Homo sapiens: one gene and its partner. The protein of the gene in region 1 interacts with the protein of each later gene in a pairwise test. Each region holds a gene or a part of one and is shown on either strand. Other genes may lie near its edges.

Region 1 (5,117 bases):
AAAAGGCCAGATGCGGTGGCTCACACCTGTAATCCCAGCACTTTGGGAGGCAGAGGCAGGCATATCACCTGAGGTCGGGAGTTCAAGACCAGCCTGGCCAACATGGTGAAACCCTGTCTCTACAAAAAATACAAAAATTAGCTAGGTGTGGTGGCGGGCGCCTGTAATCCTAGCTACTCGGGAGTCTGAGGCATGGGAATTGCCTGAACCTGGGAGGCAGAGGTTGCAGTGAGCTAAGCTCGCACCACTGCACTGCGGCCTGGATAACAGAGTAAAACTCTCAAAAAAAAAAAAAAAACCCAACATCAACTATTTTTTCAACATCTAAAAAATTTTCAGGATGATCCATATAGTAACCAAAACTGCTCAATTTTGGCTCACTTAACAATTTTGCACAGGAACCAAATAACAAAGCAACAGACAGTAATTTTTGTGTGTTCTTGTTTAATTAAACTTTGAGCTCTAGAGAAATGAGCAATAACCTACCCATCACTTAGCTTCAATAAGAAATAATAAAAATGAATGTGAATTCACCTTCACATCTTCATCCAGTTTCATAATCTTCTTAATACGAGCCAGTGGGAGTTCCTGCACTCGGAAGTCTTTCTGAAATGAACAACAAGAGATGCATAAATGGTGGGGACAATCAACAGTGTGGCAAAGCATGACAGGCAGTAGGAAACACTCTGGCTTGGTCCCTCTCTTCAGGAAGCGTATGTCGGGAGAGAAGGTACAGATGAAATGAAGAAAATACAAGCTCCAGAGCAAAATTCTTCTTTACTTAACATATGCAGGTCTTCAAAGAATTAATGGGCTTTAGAAAAAGCTTAGGATGGCCTCTAACAGTGCTCTCATGAAACACAGCCCCAAGCAATATCTGTTTTTTTTTTTTTTTCGTCAGCACAACATAGAGGGACATTATGAGCGCCTTCTTTTTTTTTCCAAGTAAGTTTACCAGTCTGCAATATGCAGATTAAAATGAGATTTCTGTCTCAGGGGTATTCCTCTAAACTGCCAGTTCTTTCTTCCATTCAGTGACCAAACTAACAGCAACGCCGGGGCACTTGACCACAGTGATCCACAGTTCTTTACAACTGATAGTGGCCATTTCTGACATTTGCACTAACCTGACAACAGAAACTGGGGAGGAGAGCTCCTTTCTCATCACAGTAGCAATGGCCTTGTCTCCAAAATTTGTTTCAAGTGGGGGTAGAGGAGTATAGAAAAAGGATGAGGGTGAATTTGTCAGCTGCCTTTTAGGAACAGCTGTGTTATTTTTTCTTAACAAGCCTGGAGTGGGGGAGGACCATATAACTTCACTGTGGATATAGTTTAGGAAAGGGCTTTTTTGATCAGCACTACTCAATAATTTGAGACTTAAGCCCTTTTTTGTTTTATTTTGAAACTACTGGTATTTAAACACATGCCCAATGATGGATGCAATTCTAGGAAAAAAATCAATTTTGAGTTTCAGAGCTGCAATGAAGAGGAAGGTGCAAAGGCAGATATTAGCTAAAATCAGCAAAATCTCTACTGGGACTAGGTGTCAAATGATTGATTCTATAAGTGGTCTGAAATGTGACTCACTAAACCTAATATGCTCACCTGGGAATTTGCATCATCACATTATGGAAGGAGCATATATTATTTCAGATTTGATGTAATTAACAAGCATAAGTGAACTTTCTTTTGCAAGACCAACAGAAAATCTCAAATATATGTCAAAAAAAGGTATTTTGGAAAAACATCAACAGTCTTCCCAGAACCTATTTTATGATTATAGAAAGAAGAGAATCTATTAGGATAAAATGTACACCAAGACATCTAATTTTTCCATGCAAACCCAACAAGCTGCTTGGCTACCACTCTGCTCTACAAACTTCAAACACCAATTTTTCATCTTTTCCTTTTCCAAATTAGGTATCAACATTTTCCATGAACCCTCTACTAAAACTAACCCTGGAGTAACAGAGACTTAGAAGTTCAGTTTATTAAAATTTCAACAAAAGGAAACAGTAGCGCAGGTTCATTCTATTCTTGTTTTTCCCCTTGCTCTTTCATTTACTGATTCAAGCAACTCAACTAATAGTAAATGTATGATACCTACTACTATGCAAAAAATACACATGTAGGCCAGGCATGGTGGCTCATGCCTGTAATCCCAGCACTCTGGAAGGCTGAGATGGGAGAATCGCTTGAGGCCAGGAGTTTGAGACCAGTCTGGTCAACATAGTGAGACCCCATCACTATTTAAAAAAGAAAGAAAAAAAATACACATCTACTCCTACCTTTGAAGAGCTTGTGGTTTGTCAGAGATAGTCACATAAAAACATTATAATCCCCTACCCAATACTGGAGGGGAGGGATCCCCTGCGGGGACACAAAGAAGGACATATTGCTAGGGACAGCTAGCAATGTGGGGCTGGAGGGAGAGTGAGGGATTGGGAAATGTTCCACAAAGGGGATGACATCTGAATTGTGTCTAAGGGATGCTGGGAATTTGCCTGTTGAAAAAGTATGAGAATGTTATTCAGACAGAACAACAAAGACAGAGAGAGAGACAAAAAATCACAGCCTATTTAAGTTTTAGATCTACTACCTGAGTATAGAGGGGAAAAGCAGGAAAGAGGATACTGGGTTGGGGCCAGATCCTAAAGAGTTTTTTTAAAAGTTTAATCCCAGAAATCAACCACTGGTCTTCCTTCTTGTGTGGCATATCACAGAAGATGATGACACTACATAGAAATGCCAAAGAGAATGCTAGGGATGATCATTCCTTTGGAAAACCTCCCAGGCTAATACATACAGCACAAGATGATCATACATTTAGCTCTCTTGCAAGTGTGCTCTTGTTTGGCTTGGTTTTAAATATAATTTGTACAAGAACGTTCCATGATTACTTAACTAAAGCCCAAAGTTGATAAAAAAGACCTCTTTCCCCAAATTGAAAGAGTAAACTATTACTCCTTCAATTTCTCTTCTTTAATCAAAAGCAACAAAAGTCAAGGATCAAGAGATCATTCCCGCCTTGCAGAGATGTAAAATGAGGCAGAAATTTATAATAAGCTCTGCTTTAATCCCCTTCCCAAAGCTTTTCTTTGTGACAAACTATTTTTTCATGTTCCTGAAACCTTGAGATCTCAAGAAGCAGTGTGTAAAAGTGGATCTTGAGGGGTGTGTATGGTTCATCCCTGTTGACAATCACCCAGTTTTCTATAATCCTATCCTAGCCTTCTAGTTACATGTAAGGATTTACCATAAGCTTGTTGGAAAAGGGAGGCCCTCTACAATCAGTAGATTGAGGCCCACGAAACTTGGATTCATGCTCCCCACTTCACTAGCTACCATGTAACTGAAGTGAGTAACATTTAACTCCTTAACTCCTTCTCCTGATACTGATTCAACTGGAAGAACAGCTGACACACACTGCTCCCCCCTACTTTTGGGAGTTCTATCAGTAAGGCAGAAGAGCAGATTATCTCTCAGAACATTCTCATGCTCCTGACCACTACCAAAGAACTACGTTAAAAATGCTTCCATCTGAAACTGCTGCATTTCAAGACAAATTCAAATCTGAATTCACTCAATGAGAGTTTGGAGACAAAGAAAAGTCAACAGATCTTGGGCTGCACTGAAGAACATCCAGAGTTTCAAATAATAAAGAGAAACCTTTTCCAGGCCTACCCAGTCAGGCACTCTGGCAAGTCAAGATTCTCAACCCTTTGAAATCAATGATTCTCAATCTTGGGGCTGCAGGTTAGAATCACCTGAAAAGCTTTTGAAAAACAAGATGCCTGAGCTCTCTCCTGGAGACCAACTGAATCAGGAACTCTAGGACAGTGGTCCCCAACCTCAGGAACCAGTTTTGTGCAAGACAATTTTTCCAGAGATGGGCAGGGTGGGCATTAGATTCTCATAAGGAGTGTGCTACCTAGATCCCTCACATGCGCAGTTCATGATAGGGTTCACATTCCTTTGAGAATCTAATGCCACTGCTGATCTGACAGGAGGTGGAGCTCAGGCAGTAATGCTTGCTTACTGGCTGCTCACCTCCTGCTGTGCAGCCCAGTTCCTAGGTTCCTAACAGGCCATGGACCCATACCGGTCTGTGGCCCAGGGGTTGGGGACCCCTGCTCTAGTGGGTAGAGTACTGGCATCATGTTTTTTGAAAACTCCCCTTGTGACTATGATCCAAGTGAGAGTTAAGGACTACTGTTTTACGGCCCTGCTACTCAAAGTAAGGTCCTTGGACCAGCAATGGTATCACCTGGGAACTCAAAAGAAACACAGAATCCCAGGTTCCGTTCCTAACCTACTAAATCAGCATCAATATTTTAAGAAGATCCTCCCTCACGTGGTTCATACAGACAATAAAGTTTGAGAAGCACTGCTCTACAGAAAGGGCTCACACAGCACAGGACCTGTTTTGTAACAGTCCACCAACCTTCATCACCAAGTTCTTGTTTAAACAGTTATCTGATTTGATTGTAATGTTAGAAATGTCATCACCCAATCAGGAGGCACTGAGGAATGAAAAGATGAAACTGCCAATTAAAAGAAAGTGACCTAGGCACTCAATTACAGTTAAGTGAAGGCTGAATGGGATGTAAAGAGTAAGTAGAGAATTAGATTTTTCTTTTCGAAATTCAGCATTGTTGCCCACCTGCCCCCAACTCACCTCCATAAAGACAAAGTTAGCTTTCTCTTTCCTATTTTCAAAGAGGCCCACTGGGGCAAAACTCAACACGAAGAAGTCTGTTATTTGCTGTTCCCAGAGCTCTGCTGTGCGGGAATATAGGGTTTTACACAATCACTCTGGTGCACAATCATCTTGATATGGTTTTTAACTAATTTCAATCCCAGCTGAACACCACCTGGATTTATAGACAACTACAGAGCTTTTAAGAATCATGAGAACAAGCTAAAATGAAAGATAAATTGCTTTTACAGGACGCAGACCAAAAGGACTTGAGGCCAGTGTTTCCAACACATCATGAAATATATCATCTAGCAAACTTCAATTACTTCTTTTTGAAACAAATTGTGTCCCAGTCTGAGATCACATTTTATGAATATTCTCGTAAGTTTTACTTATGATTGGCTAGTTTAAACATAAG
Region 2 (3,500 bases), on another chromosome or scaffold:
CCATCAACACCAAATACCATGTTTACGTTTTGTTTTATTGAAACAGGGTCTCATTCTGTGAACCCAGATTGAAGGGCAGTGGCAAGATCAGGGCTCGCTGCAGCCTCAACCTCCCAGGTTCAAGTGATCCCGCCACCTCGGCCTATTGAGTCCTGGGACTATAGGTGCACACCACTGCACCTGGCTGATTTATGGGTTTTTTTTTTTTTTTGTAGACACAGGGTCTCACTATGTTGCCCAGGCTCATCTCCAGCTCCTGGGCTCAAGCAATCTTCCTGCCTCTGCCTCCCTCAAAGTGCTGGGTTTACAAATCCCATCACTTTGGGAGGCCAAGGTGGGTAGATCACCTGAAGTCAGGAGTTCGAGACCAGCCTGGCCAACATGGTGAAACCCCATCTCTACTAAAATTACAAAAATTAGCCGGGCGTGGGCTGGGCACGGTGGCTCACACCTGTAATCCCAGCACTTTGGGAGGCCGAGACAGGCAGATCACGAGGTCAGAAGACCGAGACCATCCTGGCTAACAAGGTGAAACCCTATCTCTACTAAAAATATAAAAAATTAGCTGGGCATGGTGGCGGGCGCCTGTAGTCCCAGCTACTCGGGAGGCTAAGGCAAGAGAATGGCGTGAACCCGGGAGGTGGAGTTTGCAGTGAGCCGAGATGGCGCCACTGCATTCCATCCTGGGCAACAGAACAAGGGTCTGTTTCAAAAAGAAAAAAAAAAAAAATTAGCCGGGAGTGGTGGCAGGCGCCTGTAATCTCAGCTACTCGGGAAGCTGAGGCAGGAGAATCGCTTGAACCCGGGAGGCGGAGGTTGCAGTGAGCCGAGACCGCACCATTGCACTTCAGCCTGGACGAAAGAGCGAGACTCCGTCTCAAAAAAAAAAAAAAAAAAAGAAATACCCAAGTGGGCACAAAAATGATACACATTCAGCAGGGCACGGTGCCTCACGCCTATAATCCCAACACTTTGGGAGGCCAAGGCGGGCAGATCACGAGGTCAGGAGATTGAGATCATCCTGGCTAACATGGTAAAACCCCGTTTCTACTAAAAATACAAAAAAAAAAAAAAAAAAATTGGCCGGGAGTGGTGGCGGGTGCCTGTAGTCCCAGCTACTCGGGAGGCTGAGACAGGAGAATGGTGTGAACCCGGAAGGTGTAGCTTGCAGTGAGCCGAGATCGCGCCACTGCACTCCAGCCTGGGTGACAAGAGTGAGACTCTGTCTCAAAAAAAAAAAAAAAAAAAGATACACATTCACAGCAGCATTGTCCATCTACTTCCCTCAAGTTCCACAAACACCACTCTAGTCTGAGCCACCATCGTTTCTCTCCGACAAAACTACAGCAGGCTGGACGCAGTGGGTCACACCTGTAATCCCAGCACTTTAGGAGGGCAAGGCATGAGGATCACTTGAGCCCATGAGTTCGAAACCAGCCTGGGCAACAAAGTAAGACTCCATCTGTACAAAACAAAAAAAAATTAGCTGGGTGTGCCAGGCGCGGCGACTCACGCCTGTAATCCCAGCACTTTGGGAGGCCAAGGTGGGAGGACCATGAGTTCAGGAGATGGAGACCATCGTGGCTAACACGGTGAAACCCCGTCTCTACTAAAAATACACAAAATTAGCCGAGGCGGTCGGATCACTTGAGGTCAGGAGTTCGAGACCAGCCTGGCCAATATGGTGAAACTCCATCTCTACTCAAAATACAAAAATTAGCCAGGCGTGGTGGCACGTGCCTGTAGTCCCAGCTACTCGGGAGGCTGATCCTAGAGAACATCATCCTTGCTCCCATCCTTGCTCCCACCTTAGGACCTTGGCATTAGTGCTTCCCATTGCTTCTTCCCTCAACTTCTTAAGGGACACATTCTTTAGGTCTCAGCTCAATTGTCACCTCCTTAGAGAAGTCCATACTGGCCACCTAATTTAAAATAGGTCCACATCCTCTTCTATCTCGAATTATGCTACTTGTTTTTGTTTTGATTAAGATGGGGTCTGTGTTGCCCACTGTTTTGATTGAAATGGGGCCTCACTAAGTTGCCCAAGCTAGTCTCAATTGCCTGGCTCAAGTGATCCTCCAACCTCAGCCTCCCCAGTAGCTGGGATCACAGCCACACACCACTGTGCTAAGCTACACTACTTGTTTATATGTTTACTGCCCCCTCCTCCATTAGAATGTAAACTCCAGAAACCACTGTATCACTAGAACCAGTAACTTCCTTGGCATTTAGGACATACTGTTACTCAAATGGCTGTGAATTAATAGACACACCAAAACAAACCTGTGTCCATCAGCAGAATTATAGAAATCTGGTACATAATAAAATAATAATGGCCAACATTTATCTAACACTTACTATGTGCCAAGCACTGTTCTACTAAGCTCTTTGTATGTATTATGTCATTTAATTCCCATGACAATCTAATGGGCTGGCACTTTGTTACCCCTCTTTTGCAGCTGAGAAAACAGGCACAAAGAAGGTAACTTCTGGCCAGGCGCAGTGGCTCATGCCTGTAATCCCAGCACTTAAGGAGGCTGAGGCGGGTAGATCACCTGAGGTCAGGAGTTCAAGACCACCCTGGCCAACATGGCGAAACCTGGTCTCTACTAAAAATACAAACATTAGCTGGGCGCGGTAGCAGGCGCCTGTAATCCCAGCTACTTAGGAGGCTGAGGCAGGAGAATTGCCTGAACCCGGGAGGCAGAGGTTGCAGTGAGTCTAGATCACGCCATTGCACTCCAGCCTGGGCAACAAGAGAGAAATTCCGTCTCAAAAAAATAAAAAAATAAAATACACACACATAGGCCGGGTGTAGTGGCTCACGCCTGTAATCCCAGCACTTTGGGAGGCCGAGGTGGGCAGATCACTTGAAGTGAGGAGTTTGAGACCAGCCTGGCCAACATGGTAAAACCCCGTCTCTACTAAAAATATAAAAATCAGCCAGGTGTGGTGGCACGCGCCTGTAATCCGAGCTACTCCAGAGGCTAAGGCAGGAGAATCGCTTGAACTCAGGAGGCGGAGGTTGCAGTGAGCCAAGATTGTGCCACTGCACTCCAGCCTGGGCGACAGAGTGAGAGTCCATCACAAAAAAAAAAAAAAAACAACACACACACACACACACACACACAATCAGCTGAGTGTTACGGCATACGCCATGCACACACAAAATTAGCTGAGTGATATGGCATACGCCTGTGGTCCCAGCTACTTGGGGGCTGAGGCGGGAGAATCCCTTGAACCCGGGAGGTGGAGGTTGCAGTGAGCTGAAGATCACGTCACTGCGTCACTGCACTCCAGCCTGGGTAACAGAGCGAGAAAAAAAAATTTTAGTTGTAATTGTCAACTATCAATAAAAACTCCAGAAACTTGGCCTCAATTTAAGCAACCAAATCTGCTCTAGGAAGCTGCTTCTTTACTTTATTTTATTTTATTTATTTATTTTTGAGACAGAGTTTCGCTCTTGTCACCCAGGCTGGAGTGCGATAGTGTGACCTTGG

Evidence for each region.
Region 2: the proteins of NFYC (region 1) and SAE1 interact in binary tests that used the Homo sapiens proteins (3 or more experiments, as listed by UniProt).

Annotation. Positions count from the first base shown.
Region 1 is NC_000001.11:40,743,023-40,748,139, reverse strand, and holds part of NFYC (nuclear transcription factor Y subunit gamma), read right to left. Parts: intron 607-5,117; coding exon 535-606; intron 1-534. UniProt on the Homo sapiens protein: Component of the sequence-specific heterotrimeric transcription factor (NF-Y) which specifically recognizes a 5'-CCAAT-3' box motif found in the promoters of its target genes.
Region 2 is NC_000019.10:47,137,335-47,140,834, reverse strand, and holds part of SAE1 (SUMO-activating enzyme subunit 1), read right to left. Parts: intron 1-3,500. UniProt on the Homo sapiens protein: The heterodimer acts as an E1 ligase for SUMO1, SUMO2, SUMO3, and probably SUMO4. It mediates ATP-dependent activation of SUMO proteins followed by formation of a thioester bond between a SUMO protein and a conserved active site cysteine residue on UBA2/SAE2.